Regions from separate parts of the Homo sapiens genome. Here region 2 is linked to region 1. Evidence: fine-mapped expression QTL. A gene starts in region 1. The other region holds a variant in brackets. All regions are shown on one strand. Distances are from middle to middle.

Region 1 (15,332 bases):
GACAGAGCGAGACTCCATCTCAAAAAAAAAAAAAAAGAAGAAGTTTATTCTCTGGCCGTGCCCAGTGGCTCACGCCTGTAATCCCAGCATTCTGGGAGGCCAAAGCAGGCAGATCACCTGATGGTCAGGAGTTCGAGACCAGCCTGGACAACATGGTGACACTCCGTCTCTACTAAAAATACAAAAATAGCCAGACGTGGTGGCAGGCACCTGTAATCCCAGCTACTGGAGAGGCTGAAGCAGGAGAATCGCTTCAACCCAGGAAGTGGAGATTGCAGTGAGCCGAGATCACGCCACTGCACTCCAGCCTGGGCAACAAGAGTGAAACTTCATCTCAAAAAATAAAATAAAATAAAAATATTTTTTAAAAAGTTTATTCTCTGGTAGAAGAGGAGAAGCCATTTCATATTAAGCCAGCCCCCTAACCCTGTTTTTCCACATAAGAGGCCACCTGGCTCAGAGGACTCTGGCCTTTGGCAGCCACTGTCTGAGCTGGGAGCTTCACCACCCACCGTGAGGGACCATGGCAAGCCTCCCATGACCAATCTAAGCCCAGGTTTCCCTTGAGTGGAATGGGGGTGATGAGACAGGCCACCTGAGGTTACCTTCTGCACAGAAGCAAGAACAGATGTAAAAGTACAGGGCCCACTCAGGGCCGAGGCTGGCGGCCCCTCTACTCTGTCTGCTTAATGTCAACTAATACAGGTCCCTCTCTCACCATTCACTCTCTGGAGGGACCCTCCTGGGAAGACCCCGATGCTGGAATCTGAGGTCAGGCAAGCCCTGGGCAGCAAAAACCACCTCATGGCAGGAGGGGTGGAAGTTAGAATGTCACAATGCGACTGTGGTCTCTAGATCCCACAGTAAAACGAAATGGCAGGCAGCTGCTCCAGTTCCCTAGATCCATAACTCCTTTCAGGAGGGTGAAATGTCATTCATTCTTCAATTAACAAGTGTGACCTGCACCAAACTCAAAAGGCACTGACAGCTCACGTGCTCCAGCAGGGGTGGGTGTGGGGCCCACGGGTAAGACGGTGCTTCTCAAGGCCCTGCTCGCCTCCACGCTGGGCTGCCTCTTCTCACTCCTCTGCTGGTTGTGAGCTTCACCCCATTTTCTTTTTTCTTTCCTTTTTTTTTGAGATGGAGTCTCACTCTATCACCCAGGCTGGAGTACAGTGGCGCGATCTCTGCTCACTGCAAGCTCCACCTCCCGGGTTCACGCCATTCTCCTGCCTCAGCCTCCTAAGTAGCTGGGACTACAGGCGCCCGCCACCATGCCCAGCTATTTTTTTGTATTTTTAGTAGAGACAGGGTTTCACCGTGTTAGCCAGGATGGTCTCGATCTCCTGACCTCATGATCCGCCTGCCTCGGCCTCCCAAAGTGCCGAGGGATTACAGGCGTGAGCCACCGCACCCGGCCCAAACCTGGCTAATTTTTTTTTATTTTGTAGACATGGAGTCTCACCACATTGCCCAGTTTGGTCTGGAACTCCTGGGCTCAAGTGAGTCTCCCACCTCGGCCTCCTCCCAAAGTACTGAAACTACAAGTGTGAGCCACCAAGCCCAGCCATCTTCCTTTTCTTTACCTTTACCTTCCAGGGCCCAGGACAGAACCTGCTAGGTGCTACTGTGTCTCTGTGTAAATACACATTGTATTTTGAAGACAATAGTAACAATAAGCCAGCCAACCTTCACTCGGAAGTGAACCAGCTGCCAAGCTCTGGCAAGGGACTTGCAGGAGGCAGAACAGAGTGCTGATGAGACAAGGACGCCCGTGCCACGGCGGGCAGCCATCTCCCCTCGCTGAGCACCGCTTCCTAGCCTGGGAGGTGGGAATGGTAGAGGTGCCATGGGACGCCAGGAGGATTAAATGAGAAAGTGCAAGGAAAGCACTCAGCGCAGTGCCTGGCGGGGGGCATGGCTAGACAGACGCTGGCTGTGACAACTGTGTCATCGAGTCCTGGTGACAACCCTGCGAGGCATGCCCACTCTTCAGATTAAGAACTGAGGTGAGTGGCCAGGCGCGGTGGCTCACGCCTGTAATCCCAGCACTTTGGGAGGCCAAGACAGGTGGATCACCTGAGGTCAGGAGTTCAAGACTAGCCTAGCCGATATGGTGAAACCCCGTCTCCACTAAACATACAAAAATTAGCCGGGCGTGGTGGCAGGCGCCTGTAATCCCAGCTACTCTGGAGGCTGAGGCAGGAGAATCGCATGAACCTGGGAGGCGGAGGTTGCAGTGAGCTGAGGTCATGCCACTGCACTCCAGCCTGGGCGACAGAGCGAGAATCCATCTCAAAAACAAACAACAACAACAAAAAGAAGTGAGGTGAGGTATGAAGCAAAAGCTGACAGAACTAAAGGGTGGAAAAGACAAATCCACAGTTCTTGTTAGGGCCCTCCATGGTCCTCTCAGTGACTGAGAGAATCAAAGCAGTGGACAAGAAGGCTGCTGGAGCTGGCAAGGTCACCAAGTCTGCCCAGAAAGCTCAGAAGGCTAAATGAATATTATCCCTAATACCTGCCACCCCGCTCTTAATCAGTGGTGAAGAACGTCTCAGAACTGTTTGTTTCAATTGACCATTTAAATTTAGTAGTAAAAGACTGGTTAATGATAACAATGCATCATAAAACCTTTAGAAGGAAAGGAAAATGTTTTGTGGACCACTTTGGTTTTCTTTTTTGCCTGTGGCAGTTTTAAGTTATTAGTTTTTAAAATCAGTACTTTTGAATGGAAACAACTTGACCAAAAATTTGTCGGGCCGGGCGCGGTGAGTCATGCCTGTAATCCCAGCACTTTGAGAGGCTGAGGCGGGCGTATCATGAAGTCAGGAGATCGAGATCATCCTGGCTAACACGGTGAAACCCCGTCTCTACTAAAAAATTAAAAAAATTAGCTGGGCGTGGTGGCAGGCGCCTGTAGTCCCAGCTACTCGGGAGGCTGAAGCAGGAGAATGGCGTGAACCCGGGAGGTGGAGCTTGCAGTGACCCAAGATGGCGCCACTGCACTTCAGCCTGGGCGACAGAGCGAGACTCCGTCTCAAAAAAAAAAAAAAAATTGTCACAGATTTTTGAGACCCATTAAAAAAAATCTAATGAGAAAGAAAGAAAGAAAAAGAAAGAGAAAAAGAAAGAAAGAAAAAGAAAAAGAAGGAAGGAAAGAAAGAAAGAAAGAAAAAGAAAGAAAGAAAGAAAGAAAGAAAGAAAGAAAGAAAGAAAGAAAGAAAGAAAGAAAGAAAGAAAGAAAGAAAAAAAAAAACGCAGGTGGAAAATCGGGAGGACGCAGCTGACCTGAGCAGCGCCATCCAGTGGCTGGACCTGACCACAGCACATGGCAGCCTTGGGAACAGCCTGCAGTCTCTGGTGTCACCAAAACAGATCACACTTGGGGCCACCAAACAAACCTTAAATTTAAACGAATAGAAAGCATACACAGTATGCTCCCAAACCACCACAGAATTAAACTCGAAATCAGTCACAGAAAGCGATCGTGGAAAGAATGCACGCGAGGGCCAAATGGGAAGTCTTGGGAAATCTAGAAACATTTTGAACTGAATGAAAATGAGAATAGAACACATGAAACCCTGTGGGATGCGGCTAAGGCAGGGCTTCTATTAGTAAGGAAGAAAAGTCCCAGGTCAGGAATATAAGCTTTGCCCTTAAGAAATTACAGAAAGAGTGGCTGGGCGCAGTGGCTCATGCCTATAATCCCAGTACTTTGGGAGGCTGAAGCAGGCAGATTACTTGAGGTCAGGAGTTCAAGACCAGCCCGGCCAACATGGTGAAACCCCATCTCTACTAAATATACAAAAATTAACCAGGCGTGGTGGAGGGCGCCTGTAATCCTAGCTACTTGGGAGGCTGAGGCAGGAGAATTGCTTGAACCCGGGAGACGGAGGTTGCAGTGAGCCGAGATTGCACCACTGCATTCCAGCCTGGGCAACAGAGGAAGACTCCGTCTCAAAAAAAGAAAGAAAGAAATTAGAGAAAGAGGAATGAGTTAAACCCAAAGGAGGCAGGACAAAAAATTAAAGATAAGCAAAAATCAATCAAATTGAAAACAGGAAAACAATAGAGAAAAAAAAATTACACCCAAAGCTGGTTCTTTGGGGAAAATTTATTTTCCCAATAAAACTGAGAAACCTCCAGCCAGCCTGACCAAGAAAAAAAGAGAAAAGACACAAAATATCAATATCAGAAATAAAAGGGGGGACTTCTCTACTGACCTCACAAACATTAAAGTAATAATAAGGGAATACTATGAATAACACAAATTAAGTAACTTAGATGAAATGAACCGATCCTTGCAAGACACAACTGTCAAAATTCATTCAAGAAATAATCCTTTATCTTTTAAAGGATTTGAATTTATGGCTTAAAAACCTAAAAAAAGAAAGCCTTGAGCCCAGATGGTTTCCTGGATGAATTCTGCCTAACATTTAAGGAAAAAATAATTCCAATTCCACACAATCTCTTCCAGAATATGGAAGAGGGAGGCAATACTTCCCAACTCACTGTATTACCCTAACACTAAAACCAGGCCGGGTGCAGTGGCTCACCGCCTGTAATCCCAGCATTTTGGGAGGCCAAGGTGGGTGGATCACTTAAGGTCAGGAGTTTGAGACCAGCCTGGCCAACAACCCTGTCGCTACTAAAAATACAAAAAACAAAACAAAACAAAACAAAAACCAGGTGTGGTGGTAGGTGCACCTGTAATCCCAGCTACTCGGGAGCCTGAGGTGGGGGAATTGCTTGAACTCGGGAGGCGGAGGTTGCAATGAGCTGGTATCACGCCACTGCATTCCTGAGTACATGCCTGAGCAACAGAGCGAGACTCTGTCTTAAAATAAATAAATTAATTAAATCAAATGAAACCAGATAAAGAAAGAAGATCCCCCCAAAAATTAGAGCAAATCAAATCCAGCAATATATACAAAGGATAATATGTTAGGACCAGCCAGAGATCACCCCAGGAATCCAGAGCTAGTTCAACATTCAAAACATCAATGGAATTCATATTTACAGCTTAATGAGGAAAAACAGTGTCATCTCAACAGAGGCAGGGGAAACAAGCTCCAAGAGTTTCTGTCATTGTTTTGATGAGCAGCCACGGAAAGCCTCAACCCTGCTCTGTCTTGGCTGATGCCAAAATTACTGAAGACAAAATGTACGGCCTTGAAAACACCACAGAGTAACTCATCTAATATAACGGCCTAATGTTTATTTCAACTAAAGTAATACAATCAAAAGATTTTTGGAAACGATTTTGGATAAAGGCAAACATTTTTCCCTGAAAGGCAGTCAAGATACCCCGCATCGGCCATCGGAGCTTTGCCTCCAGGGTCTTACTCGGGTGCCCATATTACACACAGGGACCTGTGTCCCCTGCCCCAGGTCTCTCAGCCTTCTGAATACAAGGGCTTTGCCTTCTTGAGGACCACCCTTAGGTGGGCTGCACTCGATACTTCATAAAGCTTTACACCCCTCATCTCATTCTGGTCTTCACCATAACCCCCTCACTGTCCCCATTCTTCTTGACACCAACACCAAGCTGGAGACATCATCACTCACCCGCTCTGGTGAGCAGGTGATTCGCTATGGAAAAGGGACCTGAGACCTGGGCATGTGCCCTTGCTCTGAGGACCTCAGTGTGCTCTGCCAGCCTGGGTGCCCGCACCCCTAGGCCCTACTGGAGTCATCTTCTGAATCCTGGAGGTGCCCCGGCCTGTGGACAGCAAGATGCAGACCCTGCTCTCATCCATCTGCCACCCCACTGCCTTCAGGCAGCTGCCCAGCTGAGGAGCAAGGCTCCAGAATCCTGACAGGGAGGGCAACAAGGAGCAAAAGGGCCTTAGTCAGTGGGGCTGCAGCGGGCACACTCCTCACCCTAACTCCTCAGCCCAATGGCTGATTCTTTGGGTTGTTTGTTTTTGTTTTGAGACAGAGTTTCGCTCTTCTAGCCCAGGCTGGAGTGCAATGGCGTGATATCAGCTCACTGCAACCTCCACCTACGGGGTTCAAGTGATTCTCCTGCCTCAGCCTCCCGAGTAGCTGGGATTACAGGCATGTGCCGCCACGCCTGGCTAACTTTTTATATTTTTAGTAGAGATGGGATTTCTCCATGTTGGTCAGGCTGGTCTCAAACTCCCGACCTCAGGTGATCCACCTGCTTTGGCCTCCCAGAGTGCTGGGATTACAGGCGTGAGCCACCGTGCCCAGCCCCAACAGCTGATTTTTTTTTTTTTTTTTTTAAAAACAAAAGCAAGATTCTGTACCTGCTGAAGCAGGCCCAGAAAAGAGCTGGTGGAGGGCATGGTACCCAGAGCAGCACTGTTTGGTATGACATGGCAGCCACTGGTCACAGGCAGTGCCACAAGCTTGGAATGCCACAGGACAAAATATGTCTGATATATATTTTGGTAACAATAAAATATATTGTCAAAATTATTTTTCTATTTCTTTGCTATTTTCCATTTCTTCTCACTAATTTAACATGGCTACTAGAAAGGTTTAAATTATGCATGTGGCACACGATGTTTCTACTGGACAGCACAGCAGCACAGGGCTAGCACCGGAGATCCTGCAGCTCAGACGCCCATGGGGTGAACAAAAACCTTGCAACTCTCCCAGGCCAGGGACTGACATATTTTAAAACCGGAGATTTTGATTGAGGAGGGAGTAGAGCTACCACATAAGCAAATATGTAATGTTGTATGTTGTATGTTTCTTTCTTTCTTTCTTTAAGAAAAATCCCTTGGCAACAGGAAGCTTAACTGCACCAACAAGGACAGCAGAAGAAAAGCAGAATGTTAGTCAACAAGGGTCACCCTGACCCGAACCCCAGCCCCAGCTCTCTCCAGCTGCACAGCCCTGGGGAGAAAGGAGAAAGAGCAGAGAAGCCCACCCCTCACACACCCGGTTAGTCTCCCCTGCCCACTGGCAGGCCCTGGGGCAGGCCCCTAGATGGGTCTGCAAAGGGACACTGCCCCCTTGCATTCTGCCCCCCCTTCTACATGGCTCCCCCACCCACCCTTCTACACGGTGGCTTCTGAGGGCAGCCCCTGGAGGTGATCATGACCCCCCATCTTGATCTGAGGATTAACAGATACAGGTTCACCTGGTGAAAATGCAGGAGCTGTAGGGGTAGGACCCATCACTCATCTGACTGCATGTTGTAATTCAATGGACAGTTTACTAAAGTAATAGTCTTCTTCCTGTCCTCTGCTGAGCACCCATCTGGCCAACGGTCCTGCGCTCCCTCAGGGCCAGCGGCCCATCTCCTCCTGTGCCTCCTGGAGGGCTTCGCAACTGCCTCCCTCCTCTGGGGAATCTTGCCCCACTGACTGACCTTTCGGCTCTCAGATCCCAGGTCCCTCCCTCGCAGATACGGCAACAGGCTCTCTTGGGATTTCAATCCCGCCTTCCCATCAGCTACTCTTCAAAACACTAACTGGTATTAGCTCCTTCAGAGAACTCTCTGGCTTTCCAGGCCTACAATCTCCCTCCCTAGAATGAAAGCTCAGTGACAGAAGTGCCCTTAAACTTCTGAGTGACACGAGGCCCTCAGCCGGCCCTGAATCAATACTGGCTGGATCAGTGAGTGAATAAATGCACATGTGAGTAAGGAATGAAGGGAGCGAAAGAACTGGATTAGAAGCTGCTTGGGGCAGAGATGTGCCTTACAGGCTTCATGAAGAGTGGGTGATGAAAAAGGTAAATGGAGCATCTAAGAGGAAGCTTTGATAGAAGGGAGAATGCAAGAGAGGTTGGAAATTGGAATCCATTGGAATTGGGAGCCTGGGGAGATGCCAGGACAGGCACTCTCTGGCCTAGGACTCTGCAGAGGGCAGCCTCAGCAGGCAAGCCAGGCCCCCAGCTTCTGGGGCCGGTCGCACCCATTATGGCCCCGAAACGGCTGGGTGGTGGTCTGCAGCCTGCCCAGGGCCGGCTGGGAGACAGGCAGGGTCCCCACCACTCTCTTGCCTCTGGGCAAAAGCTGGCCTCCTGACCCTGGGGGATGGACGGGAGCAGGGGCCACACAACACACTCCCAAACATATAATCGGCCTCCTTCACCCTCGCCCACGCTCAGTCACACACAGCCTCGGTCATACACACTCACACTCACTCTCCGGCACACTCTCAGAGCATCACATAATTTCAGTGAGACACAATCCCAAAGACTAACACGGACAACCTCTGAGTCTCACACAATCTCAGGGCCACACACAGGCACACAATCAGACGAGCTCAGGAACGCCCCCGTCTCTGACACACGCAATCTGAGGTTTACACGCGCGCGCACACGCACACACACAGACACCAGCCGGCGCTCCCGCACGCGGCTCCCCCACCCCCGCCACGCCACGCCCCCATTGCCTGGGAACTGGCGGCCCCGCCCCGCAGCGTTTGAGGCGCCGCAAGCCTTCACGCCCCTCGGGCCTTGCAGATCCCTCTCCCAGTTTCCGCGGCGGTCCGGTGCGGTCAGTACCTGTCTAAAATCAATATTGCCGAGGCCTCCGCAGCAGTCAGGCCCTGCCACCGAGCTGTTCGTTACCTCGGCTCCCGGGTTCCCAGATCTCTTCATCCGGGGGCCGCCTCAGGAGGCACCACGCGGGCCCCGCTGCAGCCACGCGCCCCCGGAACCGGACCTATAGAGCCGGGTAAGTGCCGCCAGTCGGGGCGCTTTCCCGGTGACCCCCAACATATTCCGGCCTTCTGGGAAATGTAGTTCCCCGTCACCGCGAAGTGCCTCTTTATCTGGGGGCTCGCGACAGCGTCTAGAGGAGCCGAGAACTACAAGTCCCAGTGTGTTTCGCCGCAGAGCCTGCCGGTTCCGCTGCAGCTACGTAGCAGTATCCCCTTGGATCCGGCCTCCCGCCCAGTGCCTTTGGTCGCCGGCTGCCGCACCCGAGCCTGTAACTGACCTGGCGTCCCTGCCCTTGCCTGGCGGCGGTGGGGCTAGAGGCCGGGGGCCGCGGGTCGTAGCTATAAGCAGCTTCCCGCGCAGCCTCCTGCGGACTTGGACTTGGCCCGGGTCACACACGCCCAGGGCCCCACACGCCCAGGGCCCCACGCCCTCTTCTGAAATTCGCTTTACTCTGGGGGCGGTGCGCGACGAGCACTGCCTAGAGCTTCCCGCCCCCGCGGCGCCCAGGCTCTTTAGCTCGGCCAAAGACCCCTCCTCCACTCATTTTTTCCTTCATTCATTCTCTCATTCACTCTCGAGTATTTTCTGAACCAGACTGTGCGCTGAGGGTACGGTAGGGAACAACACAGAGTCCCCCGCCCTCGCTTCCTCCTGACTGAGATAAAAGACAAAATGTGAATAAAGGGTTATAATATGGATGAGTACTGTGGTGGAAAAAACGGGGTGGGTCAAATGGTACGGAAGGATGCTGTCTTAGAATGTGCAGGGGAGGTGCCAGATGTGCCAAGTGTGAGGGCAGGGCAAACAAGGCAAGACGAATGGTATGTACAAAGGCCTGGAGACAGGACGGGCACCTAAGGAACAGAGAAAAGACCGGTGAGCTGTGGAGTAGTGATGGAGGGGGTCAAATGGAGAAGAGTTTAGACGATCGGGTCCCAGAAGAACCCCTTTTGTAGGCCGGGTGTGGTGGCTCATGCCTGTAATCCCAGCACTTTGGGAGGCCGAGGTGGGCGGATCACCAGAGGTCGGCAGTTCGAGACCAGCGTGACTAACACGGTGAAACCCCGTCTCTATTAAAAATACAAAAAATAGCCGGGTGTGGTGCGCGCACCTGTAATCCCAGCTACTCAGGAGGCTGAGGCAGGAGAATCGCTTGAACCCAGGAGGTGGAGGTTGCAGTGAGCGGAGATGGTGCCATTGCATGCCAGCCTGCGCGACAGAGCGAGACTCCCTCTCAAAAAAGAAAAAAGCCCTTTTGTAGCCAGGTGTTATGTAATATGGGGAAATAGACTGAGAGGTTCCAAGATTTGCTCAGTCACCCAGACTGCTGGGGGCCCAGACAGGACTTCTGCAGTCAGCTGCTTCCTGCTCCAGATGGCCCGTTTCTCTCCACCTTGGCCCACAGCACCTACCAGTGTTGAGCATTTACTGAGCAGCCACTGTGTGCTGCTTTAGAGGTAGTCCCAATCTTCACAACATCGCTAGGATGGGGCAGGCCAACCGAGGAGACAGGAAAGACACTGGCTTTGGAGCATGCACTATCTCTGTGACTGAGCCCACCTTCATTTTCCTCAAAAGTAAAAGGGAAATACATGTTGGTAAAACTCATCACCCAGGAACTGGCCTGTGGGAAGTGCTCAGTAGGCATTGGCCCCCGGCAGGGCTGGGGACACAGGCTCAGGGCTGGTTCTCTGACTTACCACTGTTACTAATGAGTGTCGGGACCCTTTCCCTGCTCAGTGTCCAGGCAGAGCTGCTAGAGGCAGAGCCATTTCTGAAGGAGCCCCCCGCAGCGGGAGGGCTTCTAGCAAGTCTTTCCCCTCCGCCTACCACACATCCACTTCACTGATGTTCCAGTCTTCTGACCTAACTGGTCACTCCTGTTTTGTTAAGCCCAGAAAACAAATTTTTGTGCGTTTGCTTTATCTGAGAACAAAGTAAGGCAACCGTAAGAGGTCACACCAGAACTGATGCAGTCCGATCCTCTACTCCAGCCTACCCAACCTGGGCCACCCTTCCTCTGTGAAAAGCAAACACCCCACCCAGGAGACAGACTTGCAGCTTGAAACAAGTCAGATAAAAACCTCCTGCCTGGCTCACACCTGGAATCCCAGCACTTTGGGAGGCCGAGGCAGGCGGATCATGAGGTCAGGAGTTCAAGACCAGCCTGACCAACACAGTGAAACCCCGTCTCCACTAAAAATACAAAAATTAGCTAGGCATGGTGGTGCACACTTGTAATCCCAGCTACTCAGGAGGCTGAGTCAGGAGAATTGCTTGAACCCAGGAGGTGGAGGCTGCAGTGAGCCGAGATCGCGCCACTGCACTCCAGCCTGGGCCAGGCTGGGCATGGTGGCTCACGCCTGGAATCCCAGCACTTTGGGAGGCCAAGGCGGGCAGATCACGAGGTCAGGAGTTCGAGACCAGCCTGGCCAGCATGGTGAAACCCCGTCTCTACTAAAAATACAAAAATTAGCCAGGCATGGTGGTGCACACCTGTGATCCTAGCTACTAAGGAGGCTGAGGCAGGAGAATCACTTGAACCTGGGAGGTGGAGGTTGCAGTGAGCCGAGATTGCACCACTGCACTCCAGCCTGGGCGACAGAGATTCCATCTAAAAAAATAAAAATAAAAAACCCTGCCAAAGATACTTTGGGGCACAAGTACTTGCCTGAGCCTTTCAAAAGTTCCCAAGTCTGAGAGCTTGTAGAGAAATTATCCAGGCCAACCTCCCTCACTGAAACATTCCTTCTGTGGCATCTTGGGCAAATGGAAAAGTTGGTTCTGCTTACGTGCCGCCAGTGATGAGAGGTTCCCCACCTCTTGAGGTCGCCCGCTCCACTGATGGACAGGGGTCCATTAACCCAAAGTCATGATACCCATTAACCCAAAGTCACCCTTCCTGAAGCTTTAACAAACAAAAGTTCCTTTCTACCTTCAGGGTTATCTCTCTTTGCCCCTTGATTGAGCTCTTCAGATATAGGAAACCATTTATCATGGAACAGCTCCCAGGGCAAACCTCCTGATGGCCTCTCTTTTCTCTAACCCCACCTCCCTGGCTCCTGAATTATGAATCAGGCTGCAGAAACTCCCAGCAATCATTAAAATGGGGTTTTAGTGCTAAAATTAACATGTGTTTATTGGGTGCCTTTGGGTAAAACCTAAACCTTTCCCTACTCTGAATCTATTTTCTGTTCATAAAACATAATAATATTTATATCATAGAATATCTCTTGAGTATAATATCTCGAGTGAGGCTGTTGTGAGGATTAGAGGTAATAACTCGTACAAAAGTGCCTGGCATACAGTGGGTTCTAAGAAAATGTCCAGGCCAGGCGCAGTGGTTCATGCCTGTAATCTCAGCACTCTGGGAGGCCAAGGCAGGCAGATTGCATGAGCCCAGGAATTCGAGACAAGCCTGGGCAACATGGCAAAACCCCATCTCTACAAAAAAAAATACCAAAAAAAAATTAGCCGGGTGTGGTGCACGTGCCTGTACTCCCAGCTACTCGGGAAACTAAAGCGGCAGGATCACTTGAGCCCAGGAGAGAGAGACTTCAGGGAGCTGTGATTGTGCCACTGTACTCCAGCCTAAGTGACGAGAGTGAGACCCTGTCTCCAAAAAAAAAGAAAGAAAAAAATGTTTCTCTCCTTTCTATATAATTGAGATCTGGTGGTTAAGGTCACACTCATGGACATGCTGCTGGGATTTAGGACACCACTGGGGGCCAGGAGAGCTGGCTGACAGCTCAGGGACCTGCCAGAGTTCCTGGGAGGAGATGGGTGGGCAGGGGCCAGGATGGGTGGCCAGAGCTGCTCCCCAGACAGCAGGTACTGCAGGTTATCAGAAACCATATTGTCACTGGGAGTGCTTTAAAACCAGGAAGGTGGTGAGGGGCTGTGGCCGCAATGCCCAGCACCCACTTCATAGACTCAGGCCTGATTGCCCTCATTCTACCCCTGGTGGCTCCAGGAACAAGAGGGTAGCCAGGGTGGGAACTGGGGCAGGGGAGAGGTCATCTGGAGATGTGTGCCCTGATCACGAGTTCCCTCCCCACTCCCATCTGCCCTGAGCTTTGGAAGAAGCCCCTTCCCCAAGGACCTACTACTTGCTGGGAAGAGGGCACGGGAGTGAAGTTACCTGAACCCAGTTGTCCACAGCCTAGGCCAGCCTGGGAAACACCAGCAAGGATGTTGGTGCTGGCAGGGCCTCACTGCCCCTCAGTGTCCACAGTGTCCACAGAGCACAAACCCCTGCCTTCCAGCTGGCCTCCAGAGGTCCTAAACACCCCAGGTATACACCCACCACAGGGCATTTTCATGTGCTATGTCCTCCGCCTGGGTTGCTCTTCCCCGCATTTCCTCCCAGTACCCTCCTCACCTCCTCTGGGTTCTGCTCAAGTTCCACCTCTCCACCCTGTTGAACATGCTGACTTCCCCATGCTCGCCATGGGCCTCTCCCAACTTTATTTCTCTCCATTGGCCATATCATTTAACAAATGTATTTAGTGCACTTATTTATTTTGTATAGTGTCATTCCCTGTCCATCCCCTATCCCCTATAAGGGGAACTTCACCAGGGCAGAGATTTTTTGTTTGTTTGTTTTTTGAGACGGAGTCTTGCTCTGTCGCCCAGGCTAGAGTGCAGTGACGTGATCTCGGCTCACTGCAACCTCTGCCTCCCGGGTTCCAGCAATTGTCCTGCCTCAGCCTCTGGAGTAGCTGGGACTACAGGTGCGCACCACCACACCCAGCTAATTTTTCTATTTTTTAGTAGAGACAGGGTTTCACTATATTGGCCAGGCTGGTCTCAAACTCCTGACATCAGGTGATCCACCTGCCTCAGCCTCCCAAAGTGCTGGGATTACAGGCATAAGCCACCACCCCTGGCTTTTTTTTTTTTTTTTAAGAGACCCCTGGGTTTAAAATCCTGGGCCCAAGCGATCCTCCTGACTCAGTCTCCGGAATAGCTGAGACTACAAGTGCATGCCACCATGCCCGGCTAAGGGCAGGGATGTCTTTTTTTTGAGATGGAATCTCACTCTGTCACCCAGGCTGGAGTGCAGTGGCATGATCTCAGCTCACTGCAACCTCCCCTCCACCCCGGGTTCAAGTGATTCTCCTGCCTCAGCCTCCCAAGTAGCTGGGATTACACGTACACACCACCATGCCCTGCTAATTTTTTTGTACTTTTAGTAGAGATGAGGTTTTGCCATGTTGGCCAGGCTGGTCTCGAACTCCTGACTTCAGGTGATCCGCCCGCCTTGGCCTCCCAAAGTGCTGGGATTACAGGCATGAGCCACCATGCCCAGTCCTGAGGGCAGGGATTTCTATCTGTTTGTACACAGCCCTGTCCTGGGCACCTAGCTCTGGCACAAAGCAGGCATTGAATATACAATGAGTGAATGAATACTGTAGCTCTGCCACTCTGAGTTGGGTGATCTTGGGAAAGCCACTTTTCTGGGCCTCAGTGACCGTGTCTGTGGAATGGGGAGGGTGACCAAGTCTGTTACCTAAATAAGAGACCAAACCCACCTATTAAGATTGAAGTTCGGCCGGTTGTGGTGGCTCACGCCTGTAATCCCAGCACTTTGGGAGGCCAAGACGGGTGGATCACCTAAGGTCAGGAGTTTGAGACCAGCCTGGCCAACATGGTGAAACTCCGTCTCTACTAAAAATACAAAATTAGCCAGATTTGATGGGGGGCACCTGTAATCCCAGCTACTAAGGGAGGCTGAGGTGGGAGAATCACTTGAACCTGGGAGGCGAAGGTTGCGGTGAGCTGAGACCATACCATTGCACTCCAGCCTGAGCAATAAAAGCGAAACTCTGTCTCAAAAAAAAAAAAAGATTAAAGTTCCTGGCTGGGTGTGGTGGCTCACGCCTATAATCCCAACATTTTGGGAGGCCAAGATGGGTGGATTGCTTGAGCTTAGTAGTTCAAGACCAGCCTGGGAAACATGGTGAAGTCCTGTCTCTACGAAAAAAAAAAAAAATTAGCCAGGCATGGTGGCGTGCACCTGTAGTCCCAGCTACTCAAGAGGCTGAGGTGGGAGGATCACTTGAGCCCGGGAAGTTGAGGCAGCAGTGAGCCATGATGGCTCACTACACTCCAGCCTGGGCAGCAGAGTGAGACCCTGTCTCGGAAAACAAAACAAAACAAAACAAACAAAAAAACAAAAAAAAAACCTAAACATGGAAACAATAGCTAATCTGTCTGAGCTCTTGCTGGCTGCAGGCCCTGAGCTCAGCACTTGAAGCACACATTTTCTTTAAGCCTCACAAGAGCCCTGTGAGGTAGGGAATGTTATTCTGACTTTCCAGATGAGGTAATTGACTCATGTGGAAGGTACTGGCCCACAGTCACACAGCTGAGTGTCAGAGTTGAAACCTGTGGTCTGATGAAGGCAAAACATTCTTCCTTACAATGGCCCTGAGGTCCTGGATGGTCCGGGCCCAATCCACCTTCCCAGCTCTTCTTGCCCTCTGTACTCCAGCCACACTGGCCTCTTTGAGGTTCCTTCCAGCCACAGGGCCTTTGCACCTCCTGTTCACTCTGCCAGGCACACTCTTCCCTTCTCTTCTTGGAGATCAAGAATGGTCCCCTCATCGTCTGCCCTGCCCACCTCCACATCCCCTGCCAGCAGCCAGTACACACCTGGCACCCAGATGGCACTGGGTGAA
Region 2 (15,332 bases), 49 kb after region 1:
TCCCAGCTACTCAGGAGTCTGACGCATGAGAATGGCATGAACCTGGGAGGTGGAGTTTGCAGTGAGCCGACGTCACGCCACTGCACTCCAGCCTGGAGGACAGAGCAAGACTCCAGCTTAAAAAAAAAAATTTTGCCAGGTGTGGTGGTGCATGCCTGTAATCTCAGCTACTGGGAAGGCTGAGGCAGGAGCATCACTTGAACTCGGGAAGCAGAGGTTGCAGTGATCTGAGATTTCACCACTACACTCCAGCCTGGGCGACACAGCAAGACTCCATCTCAGGAAAAAAGAAGGCGGCAACCTTGGCAGGGGAGGAAGAGGAGAAGAGGGCTGGAGGAAGTACATACAGGAGAACACATTACAATTAAATAAAACGAGCACTGTCTCACATGGACCTGTTGGGTCTGGAATTGGTTCCTTCCGGTGGGTTCTTGGTCTTGCTGATTTCAAGAATGAAGCCACGGACCCTCCCCATGAGTATCACAGTTCTTAAAAATGGTGTGTCCAGAGTTTGTTCTTCCAGATGTTTGGATGTGTCCAGAATTGCTGCCTGCTGCTGGGTTCGTGGTCTTGCTGACTTCAGGAGTGAAGCCGCAGACCTTCTCAGTGGGTGTTATGGCTTAAAGGTGGCACGTGCAGTGTTGTTTGTTCCTCCCCGTGCATTCATGGTCTCCCTGGCTTCAGGAGGGAAGCTGCAGACCCTTGCAGTTAAGTGTTACAGCTCTTAAAGATGGCACGTCTGGAGTTCTTTGTTCCTCCCCGTGGGTTCCTGATCTTGCTGGTTTCAGAAGTGAAGCTGCAGAGTTTTGCCACTGGAGTGTTACAGCTCTTAAAAATGGCACGTCCGGAGTTGTTCCTACCTCGCAGTGGGTTCATGGTCTTGTTGGCTTCAGGAATGAAACCACAGACCTTTGTCGTGAGTGTTACAGCTCAAAAAGGTAGTGCGGACCTAAACACTGAGCAGCAGCAAAATTCATCATCAAAAGCAAAAAAACAGAACCAGGGAGCATCTTCGTTGCTGGCTCGGGTGGCCAGCTTTTATTCCCTTATTTGGCCCCACCCACATCCTGCTGATTGGTCCATTTTACAGCACGCTGATTGGTCCATTTTACAGAGTGCTGATTGGTCCATTTTACAGAGTGCTGATTAGTGCATTTTTACAGTGTGCTGATTGGTGCATTTTTACAGAGTGCTGATTGGTGTGTTTACAAACCTTTAGCTAGACACAGAGCACTGATTGGTACATTTACAATCCTTTAGACAGGAAAGTTCTCCAAGTCCCCACCTGGTTAGCTAGACACAGAGCACTCATTGGTGTGTTTTTACAGAGTGCCGATTGGTGTGTTTACAAACCTTTAGCTAGGCACAGAGCGCTGATTGGTGCATTTACAATCCTTTAGCTAGACAGAAAAGTTCTCCAAGTCCCCACCCGACCCAGAAGCCCAGCCAGCTTCACGCCTCACTGTGATAGCAACATGCCAGGACTTAGCCCCTGCACCAACACCCAAGGAAGAAGTGAAAGGACAGCTCTTTGGCACGAGGTGCTCCAGCCAGGCCCCTTCGAGTTTCCTATGACCCGTCATCGCTTTGACCTGCCTGGGTCCCTGAAGGGCCCTAACAGAGGAGGAAGGGCTCTTCTGGCAGGGGAAGAGGCCTGTTTCTCCCCTACCCCAGTAGTCATGGGGCCAAGCTTCAAAGTGCCTGAAAGGAGCACAGTAGGGGATGTCTTTACAGCCTAGGAGGAAGCCACAGGAATGGACTATTTCACTGATGGGGTAGCCATGCCCACATGCCCCAGCAGGCCAGCCTGGACTTGTACCTTCTGCTTGCCTGGGATCTTCCCCTGCAGACCGCCCCCGGCAGTCAGTTCCACACCAGGAGCCCTCAGCCAAACGACCACCATCCCCTCTGTCCGTGCTGACCCAATGCCCAGGCACAGTCCCAGCCCCAAGATGGGCCCAGTGATGAAGTGGCTGCCCCTTCACTTCCTCAGCAATCCCCGGTAGGTCCCGAGTACAGGCCAGACCTCCCTGCGAGGGGCACGTCCCCCTCAGATCTCAACCCAGGTGCCCTGAGTTGCCCTGCGTGTTTTTAGACATCTTCTATTCTGCGCCCTGGCTCTGTCCCCCCCATCTGTGTGTATAACCCTCTCTATTCCTGCCCGCTCCTGCTCCCTCTTCCTCCATCTTCCCTTCCTTCCTTTCACTGACCCCACACATACTGTCTGAATGCCTACTGTGTGTCGGCCACCAGGCACTCCCCAGGGGATGAGGCGAGCAGGGTCCACATGTGGGCCAAGACACAGTCAAAACCACTCAGAGAGCAACGAGCCCTTCTGGGTTTGTTTGTTTGTTTGTTTGTTTGTTTGTTTGAGATGGAGTTTCGCTCTTATTGCCCAGGCTGGAGTGTAGTGGGTTAATCTCGGCTCACTACAACCTCCACCTCCCGGGTTCAAGCGATTCTCCTGCCTCAGCCTCCTAAGTAGCTGGGATTACAGGCATGGACCACCATGCCCAGCTAATGTTTTGTGTTTAGTAGAGAGAGGGTTTCACCATGTTGGTCAGGCTGATATCAAACCCCTGACCTCAGGTGATCTACCTACCTCAGCCTCCCAAAGTGCTGAAATTACAGGAGTGAGCCACTGCGTCTAGCTGAGCCCTTGTGTTTTAAGCTGCAATGTGGGACAAAAAGATACCAGGCAGCAACTGTAGGGAGGGTGGCCTTGGAAGGCCTTTCTAAGGAGGTGACAGTCACACTGAGATCTAGAGGCAAGGACACCCGCTTTGCAAAGTTGTCGGGGAAGAGAAGTCAGGCAGGGGAACAGCAGATGCAAAGGCCTGGAGGCAGAGGCTGAGATCCTCCCGAGGACCAGCCCCTGGCCTCGGAGGTGGTTGGCCCTCAGTGACCAGAGAAAGAACAGTCTTTGCTGGTGTCACACAGCAAGTACGAGGCAGGGATCTAGGTAAGAAACCAGACCCTGCCAATACTACGTCTCATGTTCCTGCCCTGGCCACTGAACACTTGCTGAAGGCCACCCTTATTCACCGATGACAGTGTAGGATCGGTGAGGCCACCAGCAACCATTAGCGTCTGCCCAGAGCTGGGGATGGTCCCAATCAGATGCTCAGCTCCAGCTGGGAAAACAAAAGCAGCACCACATCCCCACTGTCTTTGCCATGCTGTTGGGGACGTTGGCCAGTATTGGATCACCAGCTGAGGCACACACACTTTTTTTTTTTTTTTGAGACGGCATCTCACTCTGTTGTCCAGGCTGGAGTGCAGTGGCACAATCTTGGCTCACTGCAACCTCCGCTTCCCAGGCTCAAAGTGATCCTTCCACCTCAGCCTCCGGAGTAGCTTGGACTACAGGCAGGCACCACCATGCCCGGCTAATTTTTTATATTTTTTTGTAAAAACAGGGTTTTACCAGTTTGCCCAGGCTGGTTTCAACTCCTGAACTCAAGTGATCCTCCCACCTTGGCCTCCCAAAGTGCTGCAACTACAGGCATGAGCCACTGCGCCTGGCCAGGCACATGCTGAGAGAGAGAGCCATCTGCCAACAGCTCATGCATTCACTTACCAGTGATGTCATTTGCCTGTGAGCACCCACCATGTGTCAGGCACGGGGCTGGGGCCTGCCCGGCCATTCCATCACCTCCTCCAGGCTTCTGTATCTGCGCCCCTGTCCCTGAAATAGCATTTCCACCTGCCTTGGATGCTCTCTGAAAAATGCTCCCCAAAAGATGTTCATATCCTAATCCTGGAACTCATGAAGGTTTCTGCTATGGTTTGAATATGTTCCCCAGATTTCACGTGTTAAAACTTAATCGTGGGAGGCCGAGGCAGGCGGATCACGAGGTCAGGAAATCAAGACCATCCTGGCTAACATAGTGAAACTCTGTCTCTACTAAAAATACAAAAAATTAGCTGGGCGTGGTGGCGGGCGCCTGTAGTCCCAACTACTCAGAAGGCTGAGGCTGAGGCAGGAGAATGGCGTGAGCCCAGGAGGCGGAGCTTGTACCACTGCACTCCAGCCTGGGCGACAGAGTGAGACTGTGTCTCAAAAAAAAAAAAAAAAAATACTTAATTCCAGCTGGGTGTGGTGGCTTATGCCTATAATCCCAGCACTTTGAGAGGCTGAGGTGGGAGAATGGCTTGAGGTCAAGAGTTCAAGACCAGCCTGGGCAACATAGTGAGACCCCCCCATCTCTAGCCCCCCTAAAAAATGATTTAAAAAATCCCCAAATTCATATGTTGATTGGAGGTGGGGCCATTGGGAGGTCATTAGGATTAGATGAGGGCGTCAGGGTGGGGCCCCATGATGGGACTTGTGGCTTTATAAGAAGAGGAAGAGAGACTTGAGCTGGCACACTCTTGCCCTCTCGCCATGTGACACACTGTGCCGTTTCCTGACGCTGTAGGAAGGCCCTCACCAGATGTTGGCACCATGCTCTTGGACTCCCCAGCCTATAGAACCATGAGCTAAATAAACTTCTATTGCTTATAAACTACCAGTCTGTGATATTCTGTTATAACAACAGAGAATACACTAGACAGAAAATTGGTACTGAGAAGTGTTGCTAGTAACAAATACCCAAAAACACAGAAGCAGCTTTGAAATGAGTAGCATTACCCAATGGGCTGGAAGAATTTGGAGAAGCAGGCTAGAAAAGCCTGTATTGCTGTAAAAAGAGCATTAAGGGCAATTCTGGTGAGGTCTTCGAAAACAAGAAGACTAGGGGAAGTCTGGAACCTCTGCGAGATTACTTAAGTGGTCATGACCAGAATGCAGATAGAAATGTGGAGAATAAAGGCCACTCTGATGAAGTCTCAGATGGAACGGAGGAACAAGATATTGGAAACTGGAGTAAAGCCCGTCCTTGTTATAAACTGGCCAAGAACTTGGCTGGATTGTGTCTGTGCCAGGGACTCTATGGAATGCAGAATTTGAGAGCAATACATTAGGATATCTGGCAAAAGAACTATCTAAGCTGCAAAGTGTTCCGGCTGCTGCACAGCTACTTACATTAAGCTGCAAGAGGGAAAATGACTTAAAGATGAAATTTATAATCAAAAGGGAAGCAAAGCAGAAAGTCTTGGAAAATTCTCAGCCTGGCCACATAAAGAGAGAAGAGGCATGTTCAGGAGAGGGAACCAAAAGGGTGGCCCAGCAACTGTTCGCTAAGGAAATTAGTACAGGGAGAAAGATCGGCAAGAGAATAGAAGAAAGGTCGCGTGCGGTGGTTCATGCCTGTAATCCCAGCACTTTGGGAGGCTGACGTGGGCGGATCACGAGGTCAGGAGTTCGAGACCAGCCTGGCCAACATGGTGAAACCCCATCTTTACTAAAAATACAAAAATTAGCCAGACATGGTGGCGTGCGCCTGTAATCCTAGCTACTCAGGAGGCTGAAGCAGGAGAATTGCTCGAACCTGGGAGGTGGAAGTTGCAGTGAGCTGAGATCATGCCACTGCACTCGGGCCTGGGCGACAAGAGTGAGACTCTGTCTCAAAAAAATAAATAAATAAATAAATAAATAAATAAATGAGAGAATGGAAGAAAGACCCCGAAGCATTTCAAAGATCTTCCAAGCTGGCCCTCCCATCACAGACCCAGAGGCCTAGGAAGGAAGAATGGTTTTGGGGACAGGCCAGGCACCCTTCATGGATTTGCTGTCCAGGGCCCCCTAGAGTGTCCGTGCTCTCATGTAGTGTTTCCTCCACTGTCCCAGCTGTGGCACAAGCAGCCCCAGGTGTGGCTGGACCCACTGCTCTGGAAGATATAAGCCCATAGCCTTGGTGGCATCTGCATGGTGCTAATTCTACAGGCTCACAGAAAGCAAGAGCTGTGAGTATGGCAGCCTCTGCCTAGTTCAAAGGCTGTATCAGCCTTGTAGCCCAAGCAGGATTTGTTGCAGGGGTGGAGACACCACAAAAAGCCTCTCATGAAGGCAATGCCTGGTGGAGCTGAGGCAGTGAGACCATCACCAAGACCCGAGAACTGTACAGCTACCAGTGTGCAACGCCAGCCAGGGAGAGCTCAAGTGTGGGCTGGGCCCAGCAAAGCCATGGAAGCCAGGCTGCCCCAGGCCTTTGGGGCCCACCCCCCACCCCAGTATGTCCAGGAGGCGGAACACAGAGTGAAGGATTATTCTGGAGTCTTAAGGTGTGATGTTTAGCCCAGGCTTGGTGGCTCACTCCTATAATCCCAGCACTTGGGGAGGCCGAGGCTGGCAGATCACAAGGTCAAGAGATCGAGACCATCCTGGCCAACATGGTGAAACCCCGTCTCTACTAAAAATACAAAAATTAGCTGGGCGTGGTGGTGCACACCTGTAGTCCCAGCTACTCGGGAGGCTGAGGCAGGAGAATCACTTGAACCCGGGAGGCGGAGGTTGCAGTGAGCCAAGATCATGTCACTGCACTCTAGCCTGGTGACAGACAACAACAAAAAAGATACAATATCTACCCTGTTGTGTTTGGGCTTCTTTGGGACCATCTGCCCCTTTCATCATGCCTACTTCTGCTTTTTGGAATGGGAATGTCTATCCAATGCCTGTGCCACCACTGTATTTTGGGAGGAGATAACTTGTTTGATCTCACAGGGTCACAGCTGGAAGGAATTCATCGCAGGATGAATCGTACCTTCAGTCTCACCCATATCTCATTCAGATGAGACTCTGGACTGCAGACTTTTGAGTTGATGCTGGAGCAGGTTAAGACTTTGGGGCTTTGGGGATGGAATGAGTACATTTTGCATGTGAGGACATGCATTTTGGGGCCCAGGGCAGACTACTGTGTTTTGAATGTGTCTCCTAAATTTCATGTGTGGGAGACTTAATCCCCAAATTCATATGTTGATTGGAGGTGGTGCCTTTGGGAGGTAGTTGGGATTAGATGAGGTCATTGGGGCAGGGCCCCCAGGAAGGGACTGATGACTTTCTAAGAAGAGGAAGAGGCTGGGTGAGGTGGCTCATGCCTGTAATCCCAGCACTTTGGGAGACTGAGTGGGTGGATAGCTTGAGCCCAGGTTTTTAAGACCAGCCTGGGCAATGCAGTGAAACTTCATCTCTATAAAAAATACAAAAATTAGCTGGGTGTGGTGATTTCGTCCACACGTACTGCAGTCCCAGCTACTCGGGAGGCATGAGGTGAGAGGATTCCCTGAGCCTGGGGAGGTGGAGGCTACAGTGAGCCGTGATCACATTGCTGCCCTCCAGCCTGAGCAATGGAGTGAGTCCTGTCTCCAACAAATTGTTTAAAAAAGGAGAGGACGAAAGACCTGAGCTGACAGCTTCTGCTCTCTCCCATGTGAAGCCCTGTGCCATGGAATGATGCCATGAGAAGTCCCACACCAGATGCCAGTGTGATGCGCTTGGACTCCCTAGCCTCCAGAACCATAAGCATATAAACCTCTATTGTTTATAAATGACCCAGTTTGTTTTATAGAAACAAAAAACTGAGACAGTTTTCTTACATGGCAAAAAGCGGGGTGGGTCTATCAGGTGTGACTGAGGATTCTGAGATGAGGAGATTGTCCTGGGGTATCGGGGTGGGCCCTGAATGCCATCACTAGTGTCTTTATAAGAATGGGGAAGCAGGCCATGGGTGGTGGCTCACGCCTGTAATCCCAGCACTTTGGGAGGCTGAGGTGGGAGGATCACCTGAGGTCAGGAGTTCAAGACCAGCCTGGCCAACATGATGAAACCCTGTCTCTACTAAAAATGCAAAAAATTGGCCGGGCACGGTGGCTCACGCCTGTAATCCCAGCACTTTGGGAGGCCAAGGCGGGTGGATCACAAGGTCAGGAGCTTGAGACCAGCCTGGCCAATATGGTGAAACCCCATCTCTACTAAAAATACAAAAATTAGCCAGGCGTGGTGGTACACACCTGTAGTCCCAGCTACTCGGGAGGCTGAGGCAGGAGAATTGCTTGAACTCAAGTGGCAGAGGTTGCAGTGAGCTGAGATGGCGCCACTGCACTCCAGCCTGGGCAACAGAGTGAGACTTCATCTCAAAAAAAAAAAAAAAAAATTAGC[C/T]GGGTGTGGTGGCACGTGCCTGTGGTCCCAGCCACTGGGGAGGGTGAGGCAGGAGAATCGCTTGAACACAGGAAGCAGAAGTTGCAGTGAGCTGAGATTGCACCACTGCACTCCAGCCTGGGTGACAAGAGTGGAACTCCATCTCAAAAAAAAAAAAAAAAAAAGAATGAGGAGGCAGAGTGATGACCACACACAGAAGAGAAGACAGGGTGCAGATGGAGTGGAGAGACCTCCAAAGATGCTGGCCTGGAAGACGGCAGTGATGTGGCCACAAGCCAAGGAAGGCCGGCAGCTGCCAGAAACTGGAGGAGGCGAGGAACAAGTCTGCCCTAGAGCCCTGCAGAGGGAGCACGGCCCTGCAGACACCTTGATTTCTGCACAGTGACACTGATTTCAGGCTTCTATCCTCCAGAACTGTGAGAGAGCAAATTTCTCTCACTTGTGGCAATTCATTACAGCAGGAAACAAACACACTCGCTAACCCTTTACTCCAATTTACCAGCGCCCTCCTCTGCTCCTGCTTATGGAGTGTATGTCATTCCCAGCTGGAATGCCAACTGAGGGCAGGGTTTTAAGAGCCTTGTTTTTCACTGCACCCTAGGGCTCACAGCACCAAACACAGGTTGAATGCACAACGAATGAATGAATGGAGGAACCAGTATTTTTTCATTTTTCAAAAGTAATAATAACTTTTACATGAATGTGGGCTTAGGCATATGCTTAGAAAAAGTCCCAAGGGGGCCGGGTGCAGTGGCTCATGCCTGTAATCCCAGCACTTTGGGAGGCCAAGGCAGGCAGATAACGAGGTCAGGAGAGCAAGACCATCCTGGCTAACACGGTGAAACCCCGTCTCTACTAAAAATACAAAAAGTTAGCCAGGCGTGGTGGCGGGTGCCTGTAGTCCCAGTTACTCGGGAGGCTGAGGCAGGAGAATGGCGTGAACTCAGGAGGCAGAGCTTGCAGTGAGCCGAGATTGCACCACGGCACTCCAGCCTGGGCGACGGAGCGAGACTCCATCTCAAAAAACAAAAACAAAAAAACAAAAAAACAAACAAAAAAAAGTCCCAAGGGAATCTACACAAATTTCTACCAGCACTTAGCACCAGGAATGAAACTACAGAAAGCTTCACATTCCACAGTGAACACTTTTGAGGGATTCAAGAACCTCTATTAATTGTTATCAAGAAACCAAATAAGAAAAGCAAACCATAAGGCCGGGTGAGGTGGCTCATCCCTGCAATCCCAGCACTTTGGAAGGCTGAGGCAGACAGATCACTTGAGCTCAGGAGTTCGAGACCAGCCTCGCCAACATGGCGAAACCCCAAAACCCCATCTCTACTGAAAATACAAAAAATTAGCCAGGCGTGGAGGTGAATGGCTGAGGCATGAGGATCACTCGAACCCAGGAGGCAGAGTGAGCTGAGTGAGCTCAGTGAGCTGAGATCGCACCACTGCACTCCATCCTGGGTGACAGAGCGGGACCCTGTCTCAAAAAAAAAAAAAAAAAAAAAGGCAAACCATGAAGAGGAGAGGAGCACCATTTTTTCCAAAAGGGTGATTCTCTATGGAGTTGGGGTCTGGAGAGCATCTGCTTGAATGGAAGTCGCCAACAGGAAGAAAGCCATGCTTTGCAGAGGCCTCACTAGCCTGGAGAGCCACCAGGGCCCTCAAGGGCAATCAAAGTTCCCATCATTGGACTAAGAGGGGCAGGAACGTCCACCTGTCTTTCCTCAGATAAGAGAAGGGGCTCTTGGAGACTTTGGGGGGCCATTTAGACGTTGAGAGCTTAGTTCCTACACCACAGTTCCTACACCACTGATGGCTGCTGCCATGTTTTATTGGCGACCTGCTCCGGGCCAGGCACGTGGATTGTTTTTAATCATCTCGGCAAAATCTCAAGGTGGGGCCAGTCTTTGATTTATGGAGGAGAAAACCGAGACTCTGAGAGGTGGTTTGCTCAATGTCACACAGCTGGAAGGTGGCAGAGGTGAGAGGGGCCTCTGGTCTGCACTGACCCTTCTCATGAGGCCACATATACCCACTACCATCTTAGCGCATGTCTCGGGGTCTGTAAGGATTTTCCACACTCGGGCAGTGCACCTTCTGGCCATTCCTGGGTCCTTGCAACACTGGTATCTCCCCAGTTCACCAGTCGTTTAAAAATGCTTAAGGGAGTTCAATTCTGCCCCAACACCAGGCAAACAGTGCCACCTGGCGGATGACAAGGACAGTACAGGAATTACCATGTGCCCTTGGGAAACTGTCCCCAGGCAGTTGTGATTCTAGGCCAAGGGCAGAGTTGTTTTCTTTGACTTCATAAGAGGGGCAGGAGAGGAGGCCCACTGTTACCACAGCTGAAAATCAGAGGGCTGGCCCTGTCTGGGTGCTTCTGACAGCGAACCCAGACTTTCTGGGTCCCCTCTATGGTATCCTGCCAAGAGATCATCCAGCTTGGGCTTAAATACGTCCAGGGTGGGGGTCTCACTCTCCATGTGTCTTCATCACAAAGTTCTTGCTATCTCCGTGTAACATCTACTCTTGGCTCTTGCTCTACTTCCACGAAGAGCTCATCAACCTTTCTGCCCTCTGACAGCCCTTTGGAGGATCCAGGGAGCTCCACTTTCTCCTCCAGACTAAGCAGCCTCCATCACTGCTCTCAGGACAGGAATCTGGCTCTTCTCCCTGAAGTCATGCTCCTCAGGTCTTCCTGGCTTGAGTGCTTGTGGTTGGGAAGTAGGATGGGAGGGGCAGAGACAGCTTCATTTTGCTGTATCCGATAGTGGAAGTGCTCTTCTCCCGACACCTGCCATGGCTGGAATCTTCTCACCATTCAGGTCTCAGCTCAAATATTACCTCCTTGGTAAGGCCTTCTCTGACCACCCTGGGCTCAAGTAGCCTCCCCAGGCCCACCCTCAGCCAAACCAATGGCACGTTTGCAGCCTGCCCCACCCCCACCCCCAACCTGGCCATGAGCTCCACAGGACAGGGATTTGTCTGTTGTGTTGGGTATTGAGTCCATGGCCGTGGAGCAGTGGCCAGCATCTGCTGGCTTGATCCTCACCGGGATGAAGAGCAAGGTAGGGCAGTGGCTCCACTGGGCTCCTCCAGAAGCAGAGCCTGGGATAAGGGCAAATAGTTAATTTGGGAGATATCCCCCTAAAATTCTTTTTTCTTTTCTTTTTTCTTTTCTTTTTTTTTTTTTAAGAGACAGAGTCTTCCTCTGTTATCCAGGCTGGAGTGTAATGACATGATCATAGCTCACTGCAGCCTTGAACTCCTGGGCTCAAGCGACATTCCTCAGCCTCCCAAGTAGCTGGGTCTACAGACGTGCACCACCGTGTCCACCTAATTTTTAAAATTATTTTTGGTAAAGACAAGGTCTTGCTTTATTGCCCAGGCTGGTCTCAAATTCCTGGGATCAAGAGATCCTGCTGCCTCAGCCACCCAAAACACTGAGAATTCAGGTATGAGCTACCATGCTTGGGTATCCCCCAAAATTCTAATGTTGAAGTCCTAACCCCCAGAACCTCAAGAGTGTAGTTGTCCCTTGATATCCACGAGGGATTTGTTCCAGGACCCTCACAGTAGATACCAAAAATCCAAGGATGCTCAAGTCCCGTGTATAAAATGGCATAGTGGCCAGGCGCAGTGGCTCACGCCTGTAATCCCAGCACTTTGGGAGGCCGAGGTGGGTGGATCACCTAAGGCCAGGACTTTGAGGCCAGCCTGGTCAACATGGTGAAACCCCGTCTCTACTAAAAATACAGAAATTAGCCGGGTGTAGTGGCACACACCTGTAATCCCAGCTACTCGGGAGGCTGAGGCAGGAGAAATGCTTGAACCTGGGAGGCAGCAGTTGCAGTGAGCCAAGATCGCACCATTGCACTCCAGCCTGGGCAACAAAAGCAAAGCGCCATCTCAAAGAAAATAAATAAATAAATAAATAAAATGACATAGTATTTGCATATAACCTAAGTGCATCCTCCCATGTACTTTAAATCATCTCTAGATTACTTATAATGTCTAATACAATGTAAATACTACATAAATAGTTGGTATACTATATTTTATTTGTATTTTTGTTGTTGTGTTGTTATTTTAAATTAATTTTTTTTTCTCGAATATTTTCAATCCATGGTTGGTTTGATCCCTGGATACCAGAGAGCCAACTGTAACCTTATTTGGTGATAGGGTCTTTACAAAGGTCATTAAGTTAAAATGATGTCAGTAGGATGGGTCCTAATCCAGTACGAGCCATGTCCTTATCAAAAGGGGAAATTTGGACACACACACACATAGAGGGAATTCTGATGAGGTGAAGAGACACAGGGAGAAGACGGCACTGATACGCTGAGGAGAGAGGCCTGGAATAGAGCCTTCCCGCACACTCCTAGGAAGGGCCCTTCCTTGCCAACACCTTGATCTTGGCCTCACGGCCTCCAGACCATGAGAGAGTGACGTTCTGTTGAGGCCCCCAGTCTGTGATGCTTTGTTACAGCAGCCCTGGCAGACTAACACAGGCACCCACTGCACCTGCACAGACAGGGCCGTGGATCCCTTTACAGGTGAGAAGGCTGAGCCAGGGGAGGGAGGTGACTTGTCCCTGGTCACTCAGAACCAGGCAGGCCACAGACCCAGGTCTCTGAACTCAAGACAGGAGGATCAAGCCCCCAATCCCAAGCCCACCCCACTCCCCAACATAACCCCAGTGGCCTGACGATGGGCCCCTGACCAAGGGTAAGCATTGGAAAGCCCAGCCTCGCTCGGGTAGGCCTGGGGACAAAGATGCACATGCACACACCCCGCTCAGGCCTCACTGGGAAGTGGATGTGGGGCAGGGAGGAAGTGGGGGCCTTTGGGACACATGGGAGCAAGGTGGGCTTCCAAGACAACACCCACCACCAAAAATCACCAACCCAGATGTGCCCAGGCACCAAACCCCAAATGAAGGTCTGACCAGAACGGCAGCTGATGAACACTGCCCAGGGATGCAATCGCTGATTCAGCTCACGCTGAGCTCAGCCCCAGGGCCCCCGTGCCCTCAGTGAGCTCAGCATCTTATGGAGGACGTGTGTATGCAGACAGCCGCAGAAGAATGCTTATTCCTGGGACAGGTCAACGCCTCAGAGCCTGTGGGAATCCGGGGGTGCCCTAACCAGAACAGAGTGTCAGGGAAATCTCCCTGGAGGAGGTGGCCCTGGCATGAAGTTTTGAGAGACAAGGAAGCATTAACTGCCACAGTGAGACACCACTTGATGGTCACTACCAACAAATGGGAAATATGTGTTGAAGAGATGTGGGGACCTAGAACCCCCGTGCGCTGCTGGTGGATGTGTAAAATAGCAGCCACTATGGAAGATAGTGTGTTGATCCCTCAAAAAGCTAAACATAGGCTGACCACATGACCCAGCAATCCCACTCCTAGGTGTATACTCAGGAGAATGGACACATCCACGTGAAGACTTGTACATGAGTGTCCATAGCAGTATTATTCCTAACAGCCAAAGATGGAAACGACCCAGGTGTCTATCAACGGATGAACAGGCAGATAGAATGTGGTATGTCCATACAGTGGAATATTATTGAGCCTTGAAAAGGAATAAAGTTCATTTTATTTTACTTATTTATTTATTTATTTTTGAGATGGAGTTTTGCTCTTGTTGCCCAGGCTGGAGTGCAATGATGCCATCTCAGCTCACTGCAACCTCCGCCTCCCAGATTCAAGCAGTTCTCCTGCCTCAGCCAGCCAAGTAGCTGGGACTACAGCCATGTGCCACCAGGCCTGGCTAATTTTTTTGTATTTTTAGTAGGGAGGGGGTTTCACCATGTTGGCCAGGCTGGTCTCGAACTCCTGACCTCAGGTGATCCACCCACCTCACATCCCAAAGGGCCGGGATTACAGGTATGAGCCACCACGCCTGGCCAGTTTTTTAAAAAAGGAACAAGGTTGGTCGGGCCTGGTGGCTCACGCTTGTAATCCCAGCACTTTAGGAGGCCGAGGCTGGTGGATCACCTGAGCTGTCAGGAGTTCGAGATCAGCCTGGCCAACATGGTGAAACCCCGTCTCTACTAAAAATACAAAAAATTAGCCAGGCATGGTGGTGGCATCTGTAATCCCAGCTACTTGGGAGGCTGAGGCACGAGAATCACTTGAACCCAAGAGGCAGAGGTTGCAGTGAGCCAAGATCGCATCACTGCACTCTAGCCTGGGCAACAAGAGCAAAACTCCATCTCAAAAACAAACAAAAAAGGAATGATGTCCTGATCCATGCTACAACATGGATGAATCTCAAAAACATTTGCCTAAGCAAAAGCAGCAGACACAACAGCACATATGAGTCCATTCATATGGAATGTCCAGGATGGGCAAACCCACAAAGACAGAGAGCACATGCATGGTTGCCAGGGGCTGGGCAGGGGAAATGGGGAGGTTCAGGTTTCCTTCTGGGGTGATGAAAAGGTTCTGGAACTAGATAGTGGCAGTTGCACAACATCGTGAATATCCCCCAAACTACTGAATTGTACTCTAAAATGGCTACAATGGTGAATTTTATGTGAATTTTACCTCAATTAAAAATTTCAGAAAGAGGCCGGGTGCAGTGGTTCACGCCTGTAATCCCAGCACTTTGGGAGGTCAAGGCAGGCAGGTCACCTGAGGTCAGGAGTTCGAGAGCAGCATGGTCAACATGGTGAAACTGCGCCTCTACTTAAAAAAAAAAAATACAAAACTTAGCGGGACGTGGTGGCACGTGCCTGTAATCCTAGCTACTCGGGAGGCTGAGACAGGAGAACTCTTGAACCTGATGGAGGTTGCAGTGAGCCGAGATCGTGCCATTGCACTGTCCAGCCTGGGCGACAGAGCGAGACTCCGTCTCAAAAAAAAAAAAAAAAAAAAAAAAAAAAAAAGAAAGAAAGAAAAACAATTCATCGGCAAAGAAGGGAGAAGAGAGTCCCAGGCAAGGGAAAGGGCCGGCACAGAAGCCAGCAGCGCGGGATGGCTTCTGGGAGCTGCAGACTGCCCAGAGCACTGGCAAGAGAGAAGGCTGGACACGGCCCTGAGTGCCAGGAAAGGGATTTAGAATTTCCTCTGCGCCAACAGGCAGCCCACGGTGGCTCTTCAGCAGGGAAATGGAGTGGTCAGATTTGCACACTGGGAAGGCTTCTAGGGCTTCGAAGGAGAAGGGGGATGTGCGGGGAGGGAATTGGAGGTGGGTTCAGGGGCTGAGAGGGGGAAGGGTGATGTGGGGGTAGGGATAATTGGAGGTGGGTTCGGGGACTGTGAGGGGGAAGGGGA

Evidence for each region.
Region 2: its variant is fine-mapped to the expression of PEMT in whole blood (TOPMed, PIP above 0.99). The same link has a PIP of 0.9 or more in blood mononuclear cells and monocytes.

Annotation. Positions count from the first base shown.
Region 1 is chr17:17,583,041-17,598,372 of GRCh38, forward strand. PEMT (phosphatidylethanolamine N-methyltransferase) reads right to left here and starts at 8,668. Exons shown (of 7, transcript NM_148172.3): 1 at 8,491-8,668. The coding sequence starts at 8,586. It also overlaps the pseudogene EEF1A1P43. RefSeq lists enhancers at 8,113-8,854, 8,420-8,809.
Region 2 is chr17:17,631,748-17,647,079 of GRCh38, forward strand. No RefSeq gene overlaps it. Among named protein-coding and RNA genes, the nearest start is that of SMCR2, 38 kb to the right of the region's middle. The variant C/T (reference allele first, on the strand shown) is at 8,039.